3 linked regions of the Homo sapiens genome follow. The protein of the gene in region 3 purifies or fractionates together with the protein of the main gene of each other region. This does not show direct contact. Each region holds a gene or a part of one and is shown on either strand. Other genes may lie near its edges.

What was found. Proteins that work in one complex are often made in the same cells at the same time.
Region 1: the proteins of RAB32 (region 3) and CHM purify together in Homo sapiens (affinity purification with mass spectrometry; 4 studies listed by BioGRID and IntAct, with this or other methods). This does not show direct contact.
Region 2: the proteins of RAB32 (region 3) and CLTCL1 purify together in Homo sapiens (affinity purification with mass spectrometry; 3 studies listed by BioGRID and IntAct, with this or other methods). This does not show direct contact.

The regions. Positions count from the first base shown.
Region 1 is NC_000023.11:85,953,549-85,960,581, reverse strand, and holds part of CHM (rab proteins geranylgeranyltransferase component A 1), read left to right. Parts: intron 1-1,604; coding exon 1,605-1,721; intron 1,722-2,606; coding exon 2,607-2,727; intron 2,728-4,203; coding exon 4,204-4,429; intron 4,430-7,033. UniProt on the Homo sapiens protein: Substrate-binding subunit of the Rab geranylgeranyltransferase (GGTase) complex.
Region 2 is NC_000022.11:19,232,710-19,239,742, reverse strand, and holds part of CLTCL1 (clathrin heavy chain 2), read left to right. Parts: intron 1-354; coding exon 355-468; intron 469-3,873; coding exon 3,874-4,047; intron 4,048-5,036; coding exon 5,037-5,234; intron 5,235-6,120; coding exon 6,121-6,321; intron 6,322-6,424; coding exon 6,425-6,577; intron 6,578-7,033. UniProt on the Homo sapiens protein: Clathrin is the major protein of the polyhedral coat of coated pits and vesicles. Two different adapter protein complexes link the clathrin lattice either to the plasma membrane or to the trans-Golgi network.
Region 3 is NC_000006.12:146,546,819-146,553,851, reverse strand, and holds part of RAB32 (ras-related protein Rab-32), read right to left. Parts: intron 4,389-7,033; coding exon 4,111-4,388; intron 1-4,110. UniProt on the Homo sapiens protein: The small GTPases Rab are key regulators of intracellular membrane trafficking, from the formation of transport vesicles to their fusion with membranes.

The DNA.
Region 1 (7,033 bases), on a different chromosome or scaffold from region 3:
CGTGGCATTGCATTCCTGTAATGCCAGCTACTCGGGAGGCTGAGGCAGGAGAATCGCTTGAACCTAGGAGACAGAGGTTGCAGTGAGCTGAGATTGAGCCACTGCACTCCAGCCTGAGCAGCAGAGAGACTCTGTCTCAATAAAAAAAAAAGAAAAAGAGGCTTAGATTCTGATATGTACACATTTATTATTTGTGAGCTTCAGAAACAAAAATCTAGTATAATTTTAATTGAAATTTGTTTTTGTTCTTGTGATATCTTAAATGCATTATTTTTCAAGCTGGCATTAAACCTTAAGGTTTATTGGATCTTATTAAATAAAAATGCAGTTTCATATTTTATATCTTAATGTTTGTGACATTATTATGGCTATGCAGGGATCCTTGAGTCTCAAATGTGTATCTTTTTAAACAAGTGATTTTTGAAGTAACTATTTTTTATCATTATTATAGAGTTAAGAATTGGCAATATATTCTTTAAAACATGGTCTCTTTCAGTAATGTAGTGTGTTAGGAAGAGGGTAATGAAGTAACGTGCCATATTTAATCAGGATGATCAGATTAGCTTCAAAAAAGTGATGTCAATTTTGTTTTGCAGAATGCTGAACTATTAGTTTATAAAATTTTACTTGAATGGTATTGATTTACTGATAGTCTTTACTGACTTATTAGTTGCTCAGACTAATGGTTTAGATTGATTTTTGAGATTCCTTTTTCTTTGTATAGTAAAGCTAATTTTCCCATTTATTTATTATAGATGTAACATTCATTTTTAATATTTATTGAGTTATAGGCATTAAGAGTATCTTAATATAGGAAATAGTCAAATCTGTTGCATTTAACCATACGGTTAACATGCTAGATAATACTGTTTACATTATTGATTTTATCTCTCTGATATTACTTATGAGATGTTGAAAGATTAAATCAATTTCTCCCATACATGCCAGCAATAATCATCATCTTCACTTTTTGAGAAAGACATATCTCATATAAACCCAGACTTCTAGAATTACAGAAGTACCTTATAATTTGACTTTTTCAGTGTAAATGCATCACAAATATTTTTTTCTTTTTTTGATGGGGTAGGGAGGTTCACTGGACTGATTTCTTCTTATAACTACCTGGCTTTGTGTAAGACTATAGATTCTTATCCAAAACCCTCAGGGCCTGGTGTATTCTATCATTAAGATTAAAAAAATATATTTTAGAAAGTAATGAAGTACATATACTGATATGTTATATGTTAGGTTAAATTATTAGCAGGGTCTGAGGAGGAACTCTAACTAAACACATTATTTCTGCAGTGAAATATATGAATATTTATGTTAATTTGGACAAACAAAGCCAGAGTGCCTTATCAGTATGGATCAGGTTTTGCTGCTAAACATGTTTTGTAAAAACTTATGGATTGCAAAGTTTTTTGAATTTTGAATTTCAGCTAATCAATTCTGAGCCTGTAATAGATTGTGTTATGTATTATAATATTTATAGGTATGATTGTTTCTACAAATAATAAAAAATATAGCAAAATTATGTATCTTTATTGTTTTCCAATTTTTCTACTATTTCAACTTTTATCTTGTAAAATATTTTCTTTGTACAGCTGCTGTATTCTCGAGGATTACTAATTGATCTTCTAATCAAATCTAATGTTAGTCGATATGCAGAGTTTAAAAATATTACCAGGATTCTTGCATTTCGAGAAGGACGAGTGGAACAGGTACTGTGCTGATCAAGAATTGTAACTGGGCATCAGCTTAAGTTATTATGGTTTGTTTTGGAAAGATAAGCAAATAAGATTGTTATTTTCCTCATAAAGCAGTAAATTCCAGTCCTCCGTGGTGATTTACAAATGTAAATGCTTAATTAAAATTTCTAGTGCTAATTTTCTCATGGCTTACTCTGCAGCTTGGTGTTGGTACCAAGCAGCACACAAAAAACCAAAAAGCACACCAGAGTTACTATACCCAAGACTAGTCACACAAATCCTTTTCTCCCATTAATCAAGATTTTGGAGAGGGAAAAGAAAGAAACGGTGATTTTTGCTGTCCACTTGATCAGATTCCACACAGAGGAGGAGGCCCGGAGCCTGGTTGGGAAAAAATTCTTACCCTTATGACAGCTGATCAGATCCTGGGTTCTTCACTGCAGCTTCCAGAAGAGCAGAGCTTTGCTATCCTGCTCACAGCACCAAAACTGTAGGGGCCAAGGGAAACACTCCCTCTTAAGCCTCTGAAGTTTCACTGAAAAATCAACTCACAAAGGCAGATTAATTGGAGAAAAGGCATAAAAATGTACTAACATGTACATAGGGAGAACCACAGTGTTTGTTTTAGATAGCACTGCTAAATTTTTCTCTGTTAGGATGACATGCCGTTGGCCTTTTAATGGCATGGGGAGTAACTTGGCAGAATTAAGTAAGAAAGCTCACAATTAGCTCTGAAGTTAGCAGAGATGCCATTAGTACTGATGGACGGTGATGTGAAAAAGCCTGGCTAGAGTGGAAACGATAATCCTGTTATATGTAAAGGGGAAAAAAGTGTAATTTGGAATAGTTATATCATTAGGAAGCAGTTTCTTAACTTAAAATCATAATATTTTTCAGGTTCCGTGTTCCAGAGCAGATGTCTTTAATAGCAAACAACTTACTATGGTAGAAAAGCGAATGCTAATGAAATTTCTTACATTTTGTATGGAATATGAGAAATATCCTGATGAATATAAAGGTATTTTTTTCATTAAGTAGTGCTCTCCAATTATTTGACATTTCTTACTATTTTAATATGCTTGCTCTGATTTAGTGAGCCACTTATTACTGTTTTAAAATGCATTCTAACTCTGCACTATCAATAGGTTAGCCATTAGTAACATTTAGCTATTTAAATTTAAATTAATTAAAGTGAAATAAAATAAAATAAATTCAGTTTCTCAGTCTTATTAGCTGTATTTCAAGGGCTCCCATAGCCCCATGTGGCTACAGTGCAGATATTTTCATTGCTGAAGTGGCATGCTAGATTTTAATTTTTATTCTTATTATTTAAATACTACTGTCAACTGGCTCTTCATAGATGATAATCTGTTTTCATGATTCCATTATTTTTTCTCATAAGTAAAAATACTATATATTTTATCATTTTCCAGGATTGCTTTTGCATAGAATCTTGAACTATTTCGTTTGAAAAAAAAAGGCTAGATGGTATATGGGGAAAAATACTGGATTCAGAAAAGGCATGGTTTCTATTCTTGGCTTTGACCTATTTCATTATGTGATCTGGGGCCAGTTACTTCATTGTCTGTTAAAAATTGAATATGCCATTTTAGTGTCAGAGCTATATACTTTAAGTCCATTGGTCTGAAAATGTTATCCAAAATTGGAATATACTATTGATAATTTATTTATAAAGTTACAATGAGAAGTGCAGCGATATTTTTTTTCCTCTGTGAAATAATGAAAGTCTAATCCTTGCTCTTAAAGCTTCAAGTCTACTAGGTACTGTCATGTTGTTATCCACAGTGGCTGTGTAAAATTCAATTCTCTCAGTAAATTTTCATAATTTTTATTTATGTAAATTATTTCTGTAAAGTTTTTGTCTTTTATCATGGGATTTATTTCCCACCACTAACAGTCCAATTACATTATATTCTGTTCTTGGTTTAAAGGAGTAACTTCTGGGGGTCCCGTATGTTTTGATGTGATTATGTGGCCATAAGACTGATTCCAGTAGCCACATGGAAATTCATTTCATTATTTTTTAGTTTATTTTCTGAGTATCAGTGAGAAGTATACGTTTTACAAAACTCACATATTTATCATTTTAAATCAATACATTCCCATGTTGTCATAGTTGTTTAATATTTTCAGTACCATTATTGGCATTATCCTGCAGGTTTCATGATAATAAAGTGAGATTATTGCCAACTATGACAACCCATTGAGTTATTTAATATTTTCTAGTTTTTTTTAAATCCATGAAATGCTCAATCATAATTCATCATTTAAAGCTAAAAATTGTGCCATTACTCCAAATAAGAGAGAGAGATTGTTTCCATTTTTTCCTAAGATCAACCATCAGTGTCCAAAATGTAATACCACCTATGTCCTTTGTGAGGTCTGTGAAACACACTTCATCTCCTTTTTGTGGGGTGGTTTTAAATAGAAGTTTAGTTCTGATTTTAAGTGATAAAATTTCATCTTTTCATAGGATATGAAGAGATCACATTTTATGAATATTTAAAGACTCAAAAATTAACCCCCAACCTCCAATATATTGTCATGCATTCAATTGCAATGACATCAGAGACAGCCAGCAGCACCATAGATGGTCTCAAAGCTACCAAAAACTTTCTTCACTGTCTTGGGCGGTATGGCAACACTCCATTTTTGTTTCCTTTATATGGCCAAGGAGAACTCCCCCAGTGTTTCTGCAGGTAAGTTTGCCATTGATTTTCTTGTCCCTTCTAAAAGTGATACTTGAATAACAGATGAAAATTAGGCAGGCAAAAATGAGATTTATTCAAGATTTAGTATATGCAAATATATACTTTATTCTATTTATTTTTTATAATCTATTTACCTACCTATCTACCCACCTAAGTGATATATTCAGTGTGGCCTCTTTTTGAGCTTGATAAAAATACTATAAATTCCTTTTTCCACTCAATAGCATGATGGAAAGTATTGTCATTGCATATAATTTTAGTTAATTTTTTATTACTATATAGTATGTTATTGTGAATACACCACAATCTATTTTTTCATTTTTCTGTTGATGAACACAGGATGTTTCCAGTTTTTTGAGGTTAACACCCTTGTGTATGTTTCAAGTTGTGTATGTTCAAGAATTTCTCTCGGAAACATATCTAGGGGTGGAATTCCCCAGTCCTGAGATACATGAATGTTAACACTTTACAACATCGTGTTCAGTTATTTCTCTAGAGGGCTGTACCAATTATAACCTTTTAGCCGTACATAAGAATACCCAAAGCTTTACATGTTTGCCAACATTTAAAATTTTTTTGTCAACCTAACTCACATAAATTATCATTGCATTGGATTTTTATTTTTCATTTCCCTAATTACCTATGAAGTTGAACCTTTTCTCATATGTTTACTGGCCATTCATGTTTTATCTTCAGGGAATACTTGTTTGTGTCTTTTTTTGTTTGTTTTACACATTTTTAAAAATTTTTATTTTTTGTGGGTACATAGGAGGCATATGTGTTTGTGGGGTACATGAGATAGTTTAATACAGGCATGCAAAGTGTAATCCATCATGGTAAATGGAGTATCCATCCCTTCACACATTTATCCTTTGTGTTGAAAACAATCCAATTATACTCTTCATTTTAACATGTACAATTAAATCATTATTGACTGTAGTCACTCTGTTGTAATATCAAACACTAGATTTTATTCATTCTTTCTAACTACGTTTTGTACCTATTAACCATTCCTACTTATCCGCTGCCCCCTCAAAACCCGCCCCAGGCTCTGATAACCATCCTTTTACTCTCTGTCTCCATATGTTTAATTGTTTTAATTTTTAGCTCCCGCAAGTAAGTGAGGATATGCATTGTTTGTCTTTCTGTGGCTGGCTTATTTCACTTAATATAATGACCTCCAGTTTCATCCATGTTGTCATGTTGTTGCAAATGTCAGGGTCTCATTCTTTTGTTTTTTTTTTTTTGGGAGATGGAGTCTTGCTCTGTCACCCAGGGTGGAGTGCAGTGGTGTGATCTCGGCTCACTGCAACCTCTGCCACCCAGGTTCAAGTGATTCTCCTGCCTCAGTCTCCTGAGTAGCTGGGATTACAGGCACGTGCCACCACACCTGGCTAATTTTTGTATTTTTAGTAGTGATGGAGTTTCAGCATCTTGGCCAGGCTAGTCTTGAACTCCCGACTTTGTGATCCACCCATCTCAGCCTCCCAAAGTGCTGGTATTACAGGCGTGAGCCACCATGCCCAGCCAGGATCTCGTTCTTTTTATGGCTGAGTATTACTCCAAGGTGTAACTGTACTACATTTTCTTTATCCATTTATCTGTTGCTGGGCACTTAGGTTGCTTCCAAATCTTGGTTATTGTGAACAGTGCTGCGACAAATGTGGTATGTAGATATCCCTTTGATACACTGATTTCCTTTCTTTTGGGTATATACCTAGCAGTGGGATTGCTAGATCGTATGGTAGCTCTATTTTTACTTTTCTGAGGAACTTCCAAACTGTTCTCCACAGTGGTTGTACTAATTAACACTCCCACCCACAGTGTTCAAGGGTTCCCTTTTCTCCGTATCTTTGCCAGCATTTGCTAGTGTCTTTCTTTTGAATAAAAGTTATTTTAACTGGGGTAATAAAATATCTCATTGTAATTTTGATGTGCATTTCTCTGATGATCAGTGATGTTGAACACCTTTTTATATGTCTCCTTGTCATTTGTATGTCTTCTTTTGAAAAATGTCTATTCAGATCTTTTGCCCAATTTTTAGTCATATCATTAGATTTTTTTCCTGTAGAGTTGTTTGAGCTACTTATATATTCTGGTCATTAATTCCTTGTTAGACGGGTAGTTTGCAGATATTCTCTTTCATTCTGTGGGTTGTCTTTTCACTTTGTTTATGGTTTCTTTTGCTGTGCAGAAACTTTTTAACTTCATGTGTTCCCGTTTGTCCATTTTTGCTTTAGTCGCCTGTGCTTGTGGGGCATTGCTTAAGAAATCTTTGCCCAGACCAGTGTCTTGGAGGTTTTCTCCGATGTTTTCTTGTAGTAGTTTCAAAGTTTGAGGCATTAGATTTAATTCTTTAATCCATTTTGATTTGCTTTTTATATACTGCAAAAGATAGGGGTCTAGTTTCATTTTTCTGCATACAGATATCCAGTTACCCCAACACCCTTTATGGAAAAGACTGTCTTTTACCCAGTGTATATTCTTGGCACCTTTGTCAAAAATGAGTTCACTGTAGGTGTGTGGATTTGTTTCTGGGTTCTCTATTCTGTTTTTTTGGTTTATGTGTCTGTTTTTATGCCAGTACCATGC
Region 2 (7,033 bases), on a different chromosome or scaffold from region 3:
GCCATACCCAGAAAGGCAGAGAGCAGAGTTGGAAGGGACAGCAGATTCTGACTGGAGCCCTTTGTTTCATCGGCATCCAGGCCCGGGGAGGGGAAGTGACTCTGCCACTGTGCTGGAACTGAGGCTCCAGGCTGCCTGGCATTGGCCCTTTGTGCCATGCTTGGTGGTGGGCAGCAGGTTATTGGATAATCACAGGCACTCCGACAAGGGGGTTGTTCTGCTTTGGTTGAATGTGACTTTTAGCGTTAATCATCCAGTGTGTGGAGCTGAGGCTCCACTTGCCTCTGTGCCTTGACTAGCACTTGCCCACCACCACAGGCGGTCCCCTTGATTGACCTAAAATCTCTCTTCTAGTTGCACATCATTGAAGTTGGACAGCCTGCAGCGGGAAACCAACCTTTTGTAAAGAAAGCAGTAGATGTGTTTTTTCCTCCAGAGGCACAGAATGATTTTCCAGTGGCTATGCAGGTACGAATGTGCTGCTCTCTAAACATCTTCATGTCCTAAAATCTACTCTAGCACCTCCCAAGATACAGGAGGCTGCCATTTTTAGTCTGCTTCTGCTGTCTCCTGCCACTGTGATGCTTTCAAACCCATTTAGAGGCCTAAGGCTTTGGCGTGTGAGCTGGGAAAGCCCTGTTCGTAGAAAGGAATGCCCGGCATGAGGGTGAGTTAGGGCAGCAGGAAGACGTTGCCAAGTCACACATCAAAGTCCTCAGCTCTTTCCTTCTTATTATAAAAGATTAGATGTTCACTGTGGTATGAGAATATTTAAAGAATAAAATACCTAATGTAGGTGACGGGTTAATGGGTGCAACAAACCACCAGGGCACGTGTATACCTGTGTAACAAAACTGCACGTTCTGCACATGTAACCCAGAACTTATAATAATAAAAAAAAGAATAAAACACTTATTTCCTTTACAATTGGCTGCCATTGAGGGAGCCTAGAGCTCCCAGGGACAGTCCTTTGAGCTGGCATTCAGAATGGCCCAGCCTTTGACACGCAGCCTCTAGTGAAACTAGGTAGTCCCAAGCCCCTGGTGGGAGAATTATTCACCTTTACATCAAGAAGGTTGGGAAAACACCTGAACCTGCATGTGGCATGTGCCTAGCCAGACTTCGAGGAGTTCGTGCTATGAGACCTGAAGTTCTTGTGAGGTTCCCTAAAACAGAAACACATGTCAGCAGGGCCTGTGGTGGTTCCGTGTGTGCTAAGTGTGTTCGTGACAGGATCAAGTGTGCTTTCCTTATTGAGGAGCAGAATATTGTTGTGGAAGTGTCAAAGGCACAGAGTCAGAAAACATTCCTCTGTAGATAAACCAGTTGGATGTAAAATATATAAGAAATCTTGGCCGGGCGCGTTGGCTCACACCTGTCATCTTAGCACTTTGGGAGGCCGAGGCGGGCAGATTGCCTGAGCTCAGGAGTTCGACGCCAGCCTGGGCAACATGGTGAAACCCCGTCTCTACTAAAATATAAAAAATTAACTGGGCATGGCGGTGTGCACCTGTAGTCCCAGCTACATGGGATGCTGAGGCAGGAGAATTTCTAGAACCCAGGAGGCAGAGAGTGCAGTGAGGCAAGATCACACCACTGCATGCCACTGCACCGCGGCCTGGAGCAAGACTTCATTTCCAAAAAATAAATAAATAAATAAATAAGAATAAAAATAAAAAATCTTACAATTTGTTTTATAAAAAATTTAGATCTATACCTTTTCTGAACAAAATTGGCATCACATTATATATGTAAGATTATATAATCTACTCTCCTTTTTACTCTTTTGTTCTCATAAAATATATGTTATCTGTACATTTCTAATAATATCAATAAATGTAACAGCAGGATTAAATATCACCTGAAATCCTAGCACTGCTGATAATTTGGCTACCCCTTTGGAAGTAACTTAACATGCATACATTTGTGCAGATTTATACAGATGGACTCTTATGAAAATGGCTCTGCACTAGCCTTGCTGCTGTATAAACTCCTCTAGCTATGTTGTAGATCATTCTGTTCCAGTAACATAATGTATGTATTTTATTGTCTGTGTCATCTGTTCTGTGGATTTGCTACAACTCATTTAAACAATCCCCTGTTGATTGGTATTTACATTTACAAGAAACACTATAAGGAACATTGTGCTCCATACATCTTTGTATGTTAGTCTAAAAGTCCGAGGATAAATTCCTAGAAATTAAACTGCTGGGTCAGGGGCACACTCTCATCACAGACTCTCCTGACCATGCTGGCCAGTTCACATTCCTACTGATGCTGCCGGTGGTAGCTGGACAGCATCCCATGTTGTGATGTCTTTCCCTTGGTTACCATCAAGGCAGAATTGATGTATCAGCCACTCATATGTATCCGGTTAATTGCCTTTTCCTAATCTTTGCATTTTTTTTCTATTGGGATCTTTTTTTAAAAAGTAGAGATGGGGTCTTGCTATGTTGCCTAGGCCAGTCTTGAACTCCTGGCCTCGAGCGATCTTCCTGCCTCAGCCTCCCAAGCAGCTGGGGTTACAGGTGTGTGTCACTGTGCCCAACTCCAGGATTTTTACCTTATTCGTAAGAGCTTTTTGTACTTGTAGAGTACTAAGTGTCTGATGTATTTTGAATATTTTTCCCAGTCGTAATTTGTGATATGTGGCACCTTATGGAAGTGCTGCATTTTTGTGTGGCAGTGGTATCATGTTTTGAGACTAATTCTGCACCTGAAGATGATCACAACATTTACCTATATTTTCTTTCATTCCTATCCTAATTGTCCTTGTTTTTTATTTAAAATCTTTGACCCATCTGGAATTTACTTTGATCTAAAGAGTAAGATAGAAATTCAGTTCTTTACTCTTACCTCCATCTCCAGATAGCTAGCTAACTATATTAATAATATATGTTATATATTGATTAAAGTGCCTATTTTCCACTAATATGTTACCTACTAATTATTTATTTTTCTAGAGTTGGAGTCTTGCTACGTTGCCCAGGTTTGACTCAAACTCCTGGGCTCAAGTGATCCTCCTGCCTTGGCTTCCCAAGTAGCTGGGACTATAGTCATTAGCCACCACACACTCATTCTTAATAAATTCTCATATATGATTCATTCTCTTTCAGGGCTCTTAATTATTTTCTCTCTCTGTCTCTTCCAGTGGTAAAATCATACTTCAAAAATTACTGTCTGTTTTAATATATATGTTTAATAATCTGGTTGGGCAAATGCATCTGTTTTTTCTCCCCAGCCCCTTCAGGTTTTCTTGTGTGTTAAATATTTTTCTGTAAAAGTTAATAGCATTTGGCAAAACTCAAAGGTTAATAAGTGGTGGTAGAAGGCATGCTGGAACATCATCTTGGCGTTTGAGGTCTTTGTCCAGAACTTTCCCCTTCTCTTATGAACTCACAGCTTGCTTAAAGGGGTTCGATAAACTGTGAAAGGATCGCTCTACCTGAAAGATAAATGGAGTAGCCTGAGTTTATTGGACCTTTATTTGAGAGTGGTTGGACAAAATATTGTCTTTAAAACTAATTCTCAATCAAGTACAACTTAGAATCCATGTCTCAGGAAAGCATTGCTCCCACCAGTAATCTCTCGGCCTGAGAAACTGAAGAATCCTTGTATAGCTAGGTGTGGCAGCTCACACTTGTAGTCCCAGCTACATTGGAGGCTGAGATGGGAGGATCACCTGAGCCCAGAGGTCGGAAGTTGCAGTGAGCTATGGTGGCACCACTACACTCCAGCCTGGGTGACAGAGCACGACCCTATCTCAAAAAACAAACAAACAAACAAGAATCCTCTTTATCATTTGTGAGCTCTTTTTACCCGCATGGCTTCTCCTCCTTACTTTCCAACCTCTTGCTCTCTGTCTTCTTATAGATTGGAGCTAAACATGGTGTTATTTACTTGATCACAAAGTATGGCTATCTTCATCTGTACGACCTAGAGTCTGGCGTGTGCATCTGCATGAACCGTATTAGTGCTGACACAATATTTGTCACTGCTCCACACAAACCAACCTCTGGAATTATTGGTGTCAACAAAAAGGGACAGGTGTGTAACTCTGACATTTCATTTTCTACCTTTTCCATTCATTAGGGACTGGCGTTTAAACTTTCCCCCTTCTCTAGGAAAGCAGCTGGGTGTAGCTATTAATAGTTCCTGTTATTAAACTTAAACCCATGTCTCCTCCTTCATATTGACACTTCCTCTCTTCAGACAGCACCATTCCTAACACAGGATTGATTCCAGGAGGAGAGCAGCTCCTTCCTGCGTATAGAACAGCAGTTCTGATGCACATCATCTTTATACCATGCACACCCTAACTGGGGAGGGTTGAAAAAGCAGATACTATGGTATTTAAGTAACTTTTCTCAACCATAGTTGAAAAAGATAGTTAAAAGAAGAAACTCTTGGCTGGGCACAATAGTTTATGCCTGTAATCCCAACTGCATGGGAGGTTGAGGCAGGAGGATGGCTTGAGCCCAGGAGTTTGAGGCTGCAGTGAGCTGTGATCACACCATTGCACTCCAGCCTGGGTGAAACAGTGAGAGCCTGTCTCAGGGGAAAAAAAAAAAAAAGTCGGGAACAGTGGCTGATTCCTATAATCCCAGCACTTTGGAAGGCTGAGACAGGAGGATTGCTTGAGGCTAGGAGTTTGAATCCAGCCTGAGCGACATAGTAAGACCCTGTCTCTACAAAAATATTTTTTAAAAAAGAAAGAAACTCTGTACTTTAAAAATAAAAAGTTTAAGAAGAAAAATTGTCAGTTCCATCCACATAGGTCATTTTGCTGTAGCGCAGAACGCATCACACTTATCTGTGTGACTTTAATAACTACATAGACTCCTATGCTGTTCTGTTTTGTTACCATTTGGCTTTCGGCTGCTTTGCCTCCTTTCACTGTGAGGGCCACCATCACAGGTGTGCTCAACACTCGCCTGAGAATGTGGCTACCACTCCAGCATCGGAAGGGAACATGGCAGAGGGATGGTGGAGCACTCTTCTAGGCCGGGCTGCTCTCACTTGTTGTGTCCTTACAGGTACTGTCAGTTTGTGTTGAGGAAGATAACATTGTGAATTATGCAACCAACGTGCTTCAGAATCCAGACCTTGGTCTGCGTTTGGCCGTTCGTAGTAACCTGGCTGGGGCAGAGAAGTTGTTTGTGAGAAAATTCAATACCCTCTTTGCACAGGGCAGCTATGCTGAAGCCGCCAAAGTTGCAGCGTCTGCACCAAAGGTGATAAACCTTGAATACTGTTCAAGTGTTCTGAGTGTTAAGAACCAACCTTGAGAGGAAAATAAGTCATAAAAGCATTTCACTAGTGATATTGCAGTCTATTAGTGTTATGTTAGGAGTTTTTAGTTTAAAATTTTTGCACCAATGGCATAACAGTAAAGGAAGTAAACAAAAAACACACTCTTGCTGCATCGGCACTTCTTCACGCCTCCCACTTTGTGTGCATACGTACCTCTCACCCAACAGCTTAGATACAGTTTCACATTTCTGTAACTTAGCATTTTCCACTCTTGCTACCTGGTTGTCAAATATGCAACTGTACAATACATCAAGTGGTTGTTCCCTGTTTTATCTAGCGATAGTCCTACCCTGGACTTTCTCCACTCTTTTAGAATATAGCATTTCGGCATATGGCTTTTTCTTGGGTTTATTTCATTTGGATAAATTGTTCAGAGACTGGATCTGTTCCTGAGTAGATAAAGACTTTCAAGTTGCTTGTCCTTGAAAGAATTTTTCTTGTCTTTCAAGGGGTAGTTGTGAACAAACCATTTCTAGCCTTCATCTGTGAATTTGAGTATTTTGAATTAGAATATAATGATAGCAGAACTTCACTACTACAAGACTGATTGAGAGGCCGAATTCTTACTGCAGCATGCTGGGGGAGAAGTAAGACCCTAAGTGTGAAGCCACCTGGAGGACCTAGATTCCCCTATACTTATGGTTATTGTTGAAGATAGAAGCAGTTGCCTTGGTAGAGGACTTTTTGTCTATGACAGAGCAGTGTGGAATTTCCACTGGCAGATTTTTGTTTTTACATACAAGGAAGTTGAGTGAAGGGATCCCCTGTGATTACAACACAATGACCTATTTTTCCATTTATTATTAGGGAATCCTGCGTACCAGAGAGACGGTCCAGAAATTCCAGAGTATACCCGCTCAGTCTGGCCAGGCTTCTCCATTGCTGCAGTACTTCGGAATCCTGCTCGACCAGGGTCAGCTCAATAAACTTGAATCCTTAGAACTTTGCCATCTGGTTCTTCAGCAGGGGCGTAAGCAACTCCTAGAGAAGTGGCTGAAAGAAGATAAGGTAGAAACACTTGTGAGCTCGTAGCCCCCCCGCACAGCTTGAAAACTTGGTCCAGGCTCCCTACCTGCCTCCTAACTTTGCCTTGTCCCTTGGCATACCACAGCTGGAGTGCTCAGAGGAGCTCGGAGACTTGGTCAAAACCACTGACCCCATGCTCGCTCTGAGTGTGTACCTTCGGGCAAATGTGCCAAGCAAAGTGATCCAGTGTTTTGCAGAAACAGGCCAATTCCAGAAAATTGTGCTCTATGCCAAAAAGGTAACGTGTGTTGAACCACTGGCATCTCACAGATTACTCACGTGTGGTTGAGTGGTTGCTGATTTTAAAGTTTATAAAATACCCTTCTTTGTAAGTCCTCTGGTGTGAGAGTTGGCAATGTTGCTGTTAGGATCTTTATTCATAATGATCATATTTTATTCTCTTCAGCTTTTTATTATCCTTAGTTTTCCAGTCCTTCCATCTTCGTTTTATTTGGGAGCTTTATCTTGTTTTTTCTCTCCCTCTCTTCCTTCTGTATGTTAATTTGATATTTTGGCAGACTCCCAGATCTTATCCCTGTGTGCTTACTGGCAGGCTGTGTTTGCACACAGATCAGGAAACTTCTTTGTGGTCTGGGCTCTTTGTATAGTTAATTGTGCCTTCCATGTACATTAAATCAATTCATTTAATTGGATATTGTGTTTGGCAGAAGGTGGTACCTACACATGATAATGT
Region 3 (7,033 bases):
TGCAAAAACTGTGCTTATTTTTAAATATATTTAACTGTTCATTTTTAAATAATTTTGGATTTACAAAAACATTGCAAAAAAAGTAAACATTCCTACCATTCACACATATTTCTCAAATGTTAACATCTTAGATAACCAGAATACAACTATCAAAATCAGGAAATTACATAATAGTGTTGTATCAGTGCTAGCCTAAAAAGCTTACTCAAATTGCATCAATTATCTCAATGCCCTATTTCAGATCCAGGATCATAAGCTATATTTCACTGTTGTCGCCCTGGTCTCTTTTACTCTCGAACAGTTCCTCACTCTCCTTGCTTTTCATGACCTTGACACTCTCAGAGAGCACTGGCCGGTGAATATACCTCCATCTGTGATGTTCGATGTTTCCTTATCATTAAATTCAACGTATGTATTTTTGGCAGAAATAAAACACAAGTGATGTACCCTGCACAGTTTATCAGGAAGCACACTGCTTCAAGTTGTTTTTGCCATGTTTCTCCACAGAAAAGTTATTATTTTTCCCTTTGTACTTAGTGCAAATATGTAAATATCCTGTTTCTCACCGCACTTTTCCCCACTAATGTTATCATCAATTAATTCCTCCCTACAACAATCATCACTGTGGTGTTTAATGGTGACTTTTTTATTTCTGCCATTCCTTCTACATTTATTAGCTGGAATTCTACTGTTAGAAAGAGGTTCCACACATGTATACATACGTGACTAACCTGCACGTTGTGCACATGTACCCTAAAACTTAAAAGTATAATAAAAAAATAAAAATAAAAAAAGAAAGAGGTTCCCTTCTCCCCCATTTCTTTATTCATTTGTTCATTTTTATCATGGATTATTAGTTTACTCTATAAGTTGAACCCATTACAGTAATTATTTAGTTTGTTGCTCAAATTGTCTTACATGTTTGGAGCTTGTATGGCAGTATCCTGTATCTTTGTCACATGTCCCCATCATTTTGTAAGCATTTCCTTAGTTTCTTGCACAACAAAATATCTCAGGCACATCTTTACTTGACTTGTTCCACCCGTCCTAAAATCAGGCATTTCTCTAGAGATTCCCATTCTTTTTACTGGAGAATGATATTTAAAAACCGAATTTTGAGCACGAGGTAAGTTAATTGGTTCTGTGGTGTCATTCCTTTTAAGCCCTCTCAGCAGGTATGGCTAGTAAATAAACGTATGTATACACACATGCATCTGTATCAACTTCTTTATCTGTTTACACATATGTGTGTGTACATACATATATCTATACACACTCACATATATATATGCATATACTCTTACACACACACACATATGAAACCTGAAGCTCATATTAATGTCTAATCCAATCCAATGCTATGAGGTTCATTGTAGCCTTTTTCCTTATTTGTAAACCCTTTCTCAGACAACAAGAAACCTAAAACAGCTGTGCTATTTACAGGCATCTTTCATAGCACTGAAACAAGCTTTTTATTTATTTTTTACCTCCACTCCCAAGATAAGTGTTAACTTTAATTCAAGTATTGATCTTTTGAATGTCCAAGTGACATTCAGTCCCAGCTATCCCCATTATATCAAATAATTATAAAATTCTCTAACTGTATTTGGAAGCAGTTGGTTAAAATTCCAATGATAGTGTAACTAGTCACATGTTAATGTAATTCCCATATGTTAATATTATTAAAGTTTCATATTAGAAATCCATTATTTGCCATAAAGGTGAAATGATGAAATTTATTTGCAAAAGTTATCTTTTGCCTATGTTCCTAGTGAAATTCGGATGACTGCAATTCAAGCAAAAGTCAGATCTGAAGTTAGCTGCAGGCCAGCTCAGAAGTGTACCTTAGTGACATTTAGGCAGTACTTTAAGCCTTAACTCTAAGATTTTTAACCTAAATTTTTTTATTACTGTTATTCTCTTGGAACACGTCTGGTTTACTGCTAAGGAAATTCTACAGAAGCTGCTTCTATTATATTTGTATGGAAGCACAGAGCAAACTTGAAACTTGTACTCTTAACCAGCGTTTCACCTTTCACCTCTGCGTGTAATCCTATCCATACATAAAGTGAAACCGATGACTTACACAGTCACAAGCTACTAGTCACATGACGTCTTACATCTGGGGGCAAATCTGGATTTACTATCTGAAAGATTAAATAGAGCCTAAAGGGGAATTTTGTCTATCATTTATAAAACTCCTCCACCAAAATGCACACTCGCATAAGCAGTTATACTTACTGCCCCTTTTTTTTTTTTCGTCTTTTTACAGCAAAGCTGGCAAGTAGAGCAAATCACCCAATAGGCATACAGAGCAGACAGAGGGCATGAGTGTCCAGAAGAACACGCCTGTAATCCTAGTGCTTTGGGAGGCTGAGGCAGGCAGATCACTCCAGCTCAGGAGTTTGAGTCCAGCCTGGGCAACACGGCAAAATTCTGTCTCTACTAAAAATGCAAAAAGTAGCTGGGCATGGTGGCACATGCCTGTGGTCCTAGCTTCTTGGGAGAATGAGGTGACTTCTCTATAAGAAGGCTTTCTTTCTGTGATTTTCTCCTTCGTGTCAGATTAAGTGCTCACATAGCACTCCTGGGCTTCATCTTTCTTCTATCACTATGTTTTATTTATGAAAGGAAATTTTAAGATGCTATATTTATTCAAACAATTAGCCTCTAGCTTAGGAGTGTACATTTCTGCCTGCAGTAGACAGTCTTTTTTTTCCCAGTGACTCCATCATTGCGCAATATTTTTGGAGCGGTCTCCTTTTGTGCAGTCTCTCATTGCTTCGCTTTTATCCCGCAGATCATCATTGGCATCAAGTAGTTTTTCACTCTAAGGGTAAGTTTCTAGTAGAGCTAAACCTAATCTGATTAGTAAATATCCAGAATGAGGTGGGTGATTTGGAGGAACAATCATACATACATACATATATAAAAACACCCGTAAACACACACAAGAAATCCACAGAACATAAACTAAAAGCTAGAACTGTGTTATGATTTCAACAAATTTATGGTATAATGTTTATCTGTCATCACAGAATTTTTCAAACATTTCATCATTCTTACATAAATCTGATTGTCACTAACCCCCTTATGTGAAAGTTCCAATGCACGTAACCCCCCCCCCAAACATTTTATATATGTATAATTTTCACCTTTTTTCTATATCTAGACTATTAAGATTTTTTTTTTTTTGAGATGGGGTCTCACTTTGTCACCCAGGCTGGAGTGCAGTGGCATGATCTCGGCTCACTGCAACCTCTGCCTCCCAGACTCAAGTGATCCTCCTGCCTTAGCCTCCCGAGAAGCTAGGACCACAGGCATGCACCACCATGCTCAGCTACTTTGTGTATTTTTGGCAGAGACAGGGTTTCGCCACGTTGCCCAGGCTGGTCTCGAACTCCCAGTTCAAGCGATCTGCCCGATCCATCTGCCTCGGCCTCCCAGACTGCTAGGATTACAGGCATGAGCCACCGTGCCTGGTCACTAGACTGTTAAGATTTTTGAAAGTCAACTGAGTGTTTTATTTTTTCCTTCAGAAAATATTTTATTCAGCTTTCCATAATAGACAAAAGAAAAAATTCTCACTCTACTGTTTATGAAGCATACCACAAATGTTGATACTTTCTGGCTGTTTCAAATCTTTCGTACACAGTTAACCTAAAACTCTTCAAACATCATCTGAATAAATCTCCTCTCTGATCTTTTCACATGGTCCTGCATGTGACACACATCTTCACCAGAGGCATCTTCCTATTCACTTAGCCTTTTGTAAAAACCAAAAATTCTCGTGCTTGACAATACCCCCAACCACTCTAGTTGCATGAGAAGTACCTCAGTTAAAAACTCAAACTCACAGAAAATGTCATTTGCTTTTTGCCCTAAATAATTCTTTTTGTTTTGATGGAAAATCTGCCCTTCTATTAGCCATTAGCCAATTTGGAAAGCAGTCCTGTTGTGGACTGAAAGAAGCTATAACACATCCATGCTACACTTCTCATTTTCCAGACTTTCAAACACCACTCACATAAATATATCTAAATACTTTACATTTACAGCTCAGAATTATGAGCTAGAAAGCAAAAGATGCATAAGCAAAGCAGATCTCACCTTTGCAGAGGTTTCAAACCATCCGGCAAAGCCATGTTCTTTGCAGAATTGGTCCACCTGGGAAGGACTCTGGCTACTGTCCTTGTTCTGGTCACATTTGTTAGCCAAGAGGACAGCAGGGATAGGGCTGCCATTTGGAAGATGAACTTTACTATCCAGATCACTTTTCCATTTTAAGACTGCCTCAAATGTGGAACTTCTTGATATATCAAAGACTACAAAAGCACCAACAGCTTCCTTGTAGTATACTCGGGTCATGTTGCCAAATCGCTCCTGCCCTAGACATAAATATAAGAAAAAATTAAAAACTTGTAATTCAGACAGAGTCTACATTTAGGTATAACCCCTTTTACCCCAAGAGCAACACTATGAACAAATGTCTTCCATTCCACAGCAATATAACCTGGTGTGATTAAGGCTATCCATACAGACCATGACCCATAGAGCAGATGTGTCTGATAATTTGGTTTAAGTACATAATGAATTAGTTTTATGTTCTGTACAACATATTCTCCATAAAAACCAATATGACAATATTTAAAGCTACAAAGTCTGTCATTTATTCCGACTCGTCTCCCCTTAGTCTAAGAGAAGAGAGGCACTAAAGGAAAACATAAAGCTGGAAGTAGAGGAAGAAGAGACAAGAATAGAAGAAATGAAGCCTGCAGGAAGGAGATAAGTGCAGTGGGTAACATGCTAGTCAAATAGATTAGGGCTGGACATGAGATAAAGTAGTTCATGTTCTCAACTCATCTCTCCTTCATATCTCTAGCCCATACCCACTTCTGACTCAATATGCAAGATTTCACCCCTGTAAGTAGTAGATACATGAAAATCTGTTTCAGAACAAAAGGCACAACTGGTTGTGTTGTTACAAGAAGAATCAATTCCAGGGTTCTTCAAATGTCATTGTACTTTTAAAATAATTTATGTCAAACACTTTGGGAAAAATCTGCTTTGTACATTATATAGGACTTTGCAAAGCGTTCTCTTACTATCTGCTATTGTACTAATCTTTGGCATAGGAAAGACCCTTCTTTTCATCTGACAGATGTAACAACAGGAAAATGGATGCTTGGCCAGGATTATAGTGGCACTGACTAAAGAAGACAGGACTAGAATCCAGGTCTTCTGACTCCCACACACCTATAGAAGTGGGATGCTAGCCTTTCTGAACTATCTTGCAGTTGCCTTGACTTAGTTACTGACTACAGTGTGAAGGAAAAATGATTGGCAATCAATGCACATCTAAGATGTATCACTCTGTTCTATGATAAAGACACTTTCTTCTTGAAACACATGAGCAACAGGCTTTATCTACATTTTATTGACACATTTTCTCTGCACAGATGCAAAGATACCCCAAAATATAAAATTCTTCCTTCTCCAAACTCTACAATGCAATATAATTTTATATATTGTTTTAGGGAATAATGGAAGAAGAATAAAACAATGGTCAAACGTGAATGCATAAATTTAAGGTTTGTTTTGTGATGACTCCTCATATGGTTTAACTGAAGCTGTACTGTAATAGTCCAAAGGTCTAAATTTTACTGTAACAAATGGTCACATATGAAACCCTACTATTATGCTCATATTTTATTGTGATGTAAATCTGACCATTATATAGTTCATTGGCTCATAATGCTGACATTTATAAAAACTTACATGATATGCCAACTGTTCAAAATCGCTATTCTGCAGAAAGACTATATGCATTGAAATGATTCAGACTCCAATTTCAAATGCAGTGCACACATTACCAACCACTTCCATTTTTATATATTTTAATTATTGAATATGAAAAGACTAAGCAACAAGATATGACAGTCTTAAATTAGGAAATTGAAAAAGTAAGATTTCAAGATAATTACATGGTAATAAACTATTCCTTTGGACTATATCTTTAATTTAGAAAAGAGAGTGGGGTGACAAATGAGTAAAAGAACAGTTAGAAACCTAGAAGTTAACAAAGAGTTGTTAAACTTTAGTGACTGTTGCTTTTTTTTTTTTTTTTTTGTGAATCATCTGTAAATTTCAAGTATTTCCTTTTACTCGTGCTCATGAAAGATGATAGGAGAGTTGTGAAAAAAAAGACAAAGGGATATTACTAGGTATACTAATCGACAAAGTATAAGATGCAGCAAGGCAATCAGGATCCACATTCTATTTTGGATGGGAATCAAAACAATGTAAAATAAGTTTAGGCATAAATTATATAGTTTATATCTTCCAAGCACACATTTTATGCTTGGGTAAATATTATTTATATGAACTTCAGAGCAGACTGTTCCCAATTTGTCCTTTGGCCCAAAGGAGAGTTACTCATTCAGATTTTTATTAAAAAATGTTGATCCTAAAAAGCAAATCACTCAGTCAATACATGAAGGCTAAAGTATACTAGACCTAAATGGACAAACTTGTTTTTTTAAGATTTAACCTAGACCAGTCTTTCAATTTGCCTGAAAAATGCTATAGTGACTAATAAGCAATAAGCATATAATAGTAAACCAAATACTACTTTACCTACACTGAGCATTAAAAGGAAGATCAGAGACATCTCTTGCTATATCTTGAGTATGCATTTATTAAGATCTCTGTAAAGTGTTATCAAAGACTTCAAGATTTTAGTATATTTCAGTTATGTTTTGAGCAGCAGTCCTAAAGTACGTGTGAGTTAAGAGATGGCAATTGTCTAACACAAAAACTGCACTAAACTGCATCTGTATTTTAAAGCCAGATTCCTTCAATGCCGTAAGAACAGATTTGTGTATCTGAGGATCACAGTGGTTCTTAACCTGAAGAGTTCAGCTGAATCTGCTTAGCTACATGTGTAGAAAACATTTGATAATTCTAGCCTATCATACTTGCCACAGCTTTCAAGCATAGAGATTCGTCATAATTTCTTCACTACCTCGCCCTC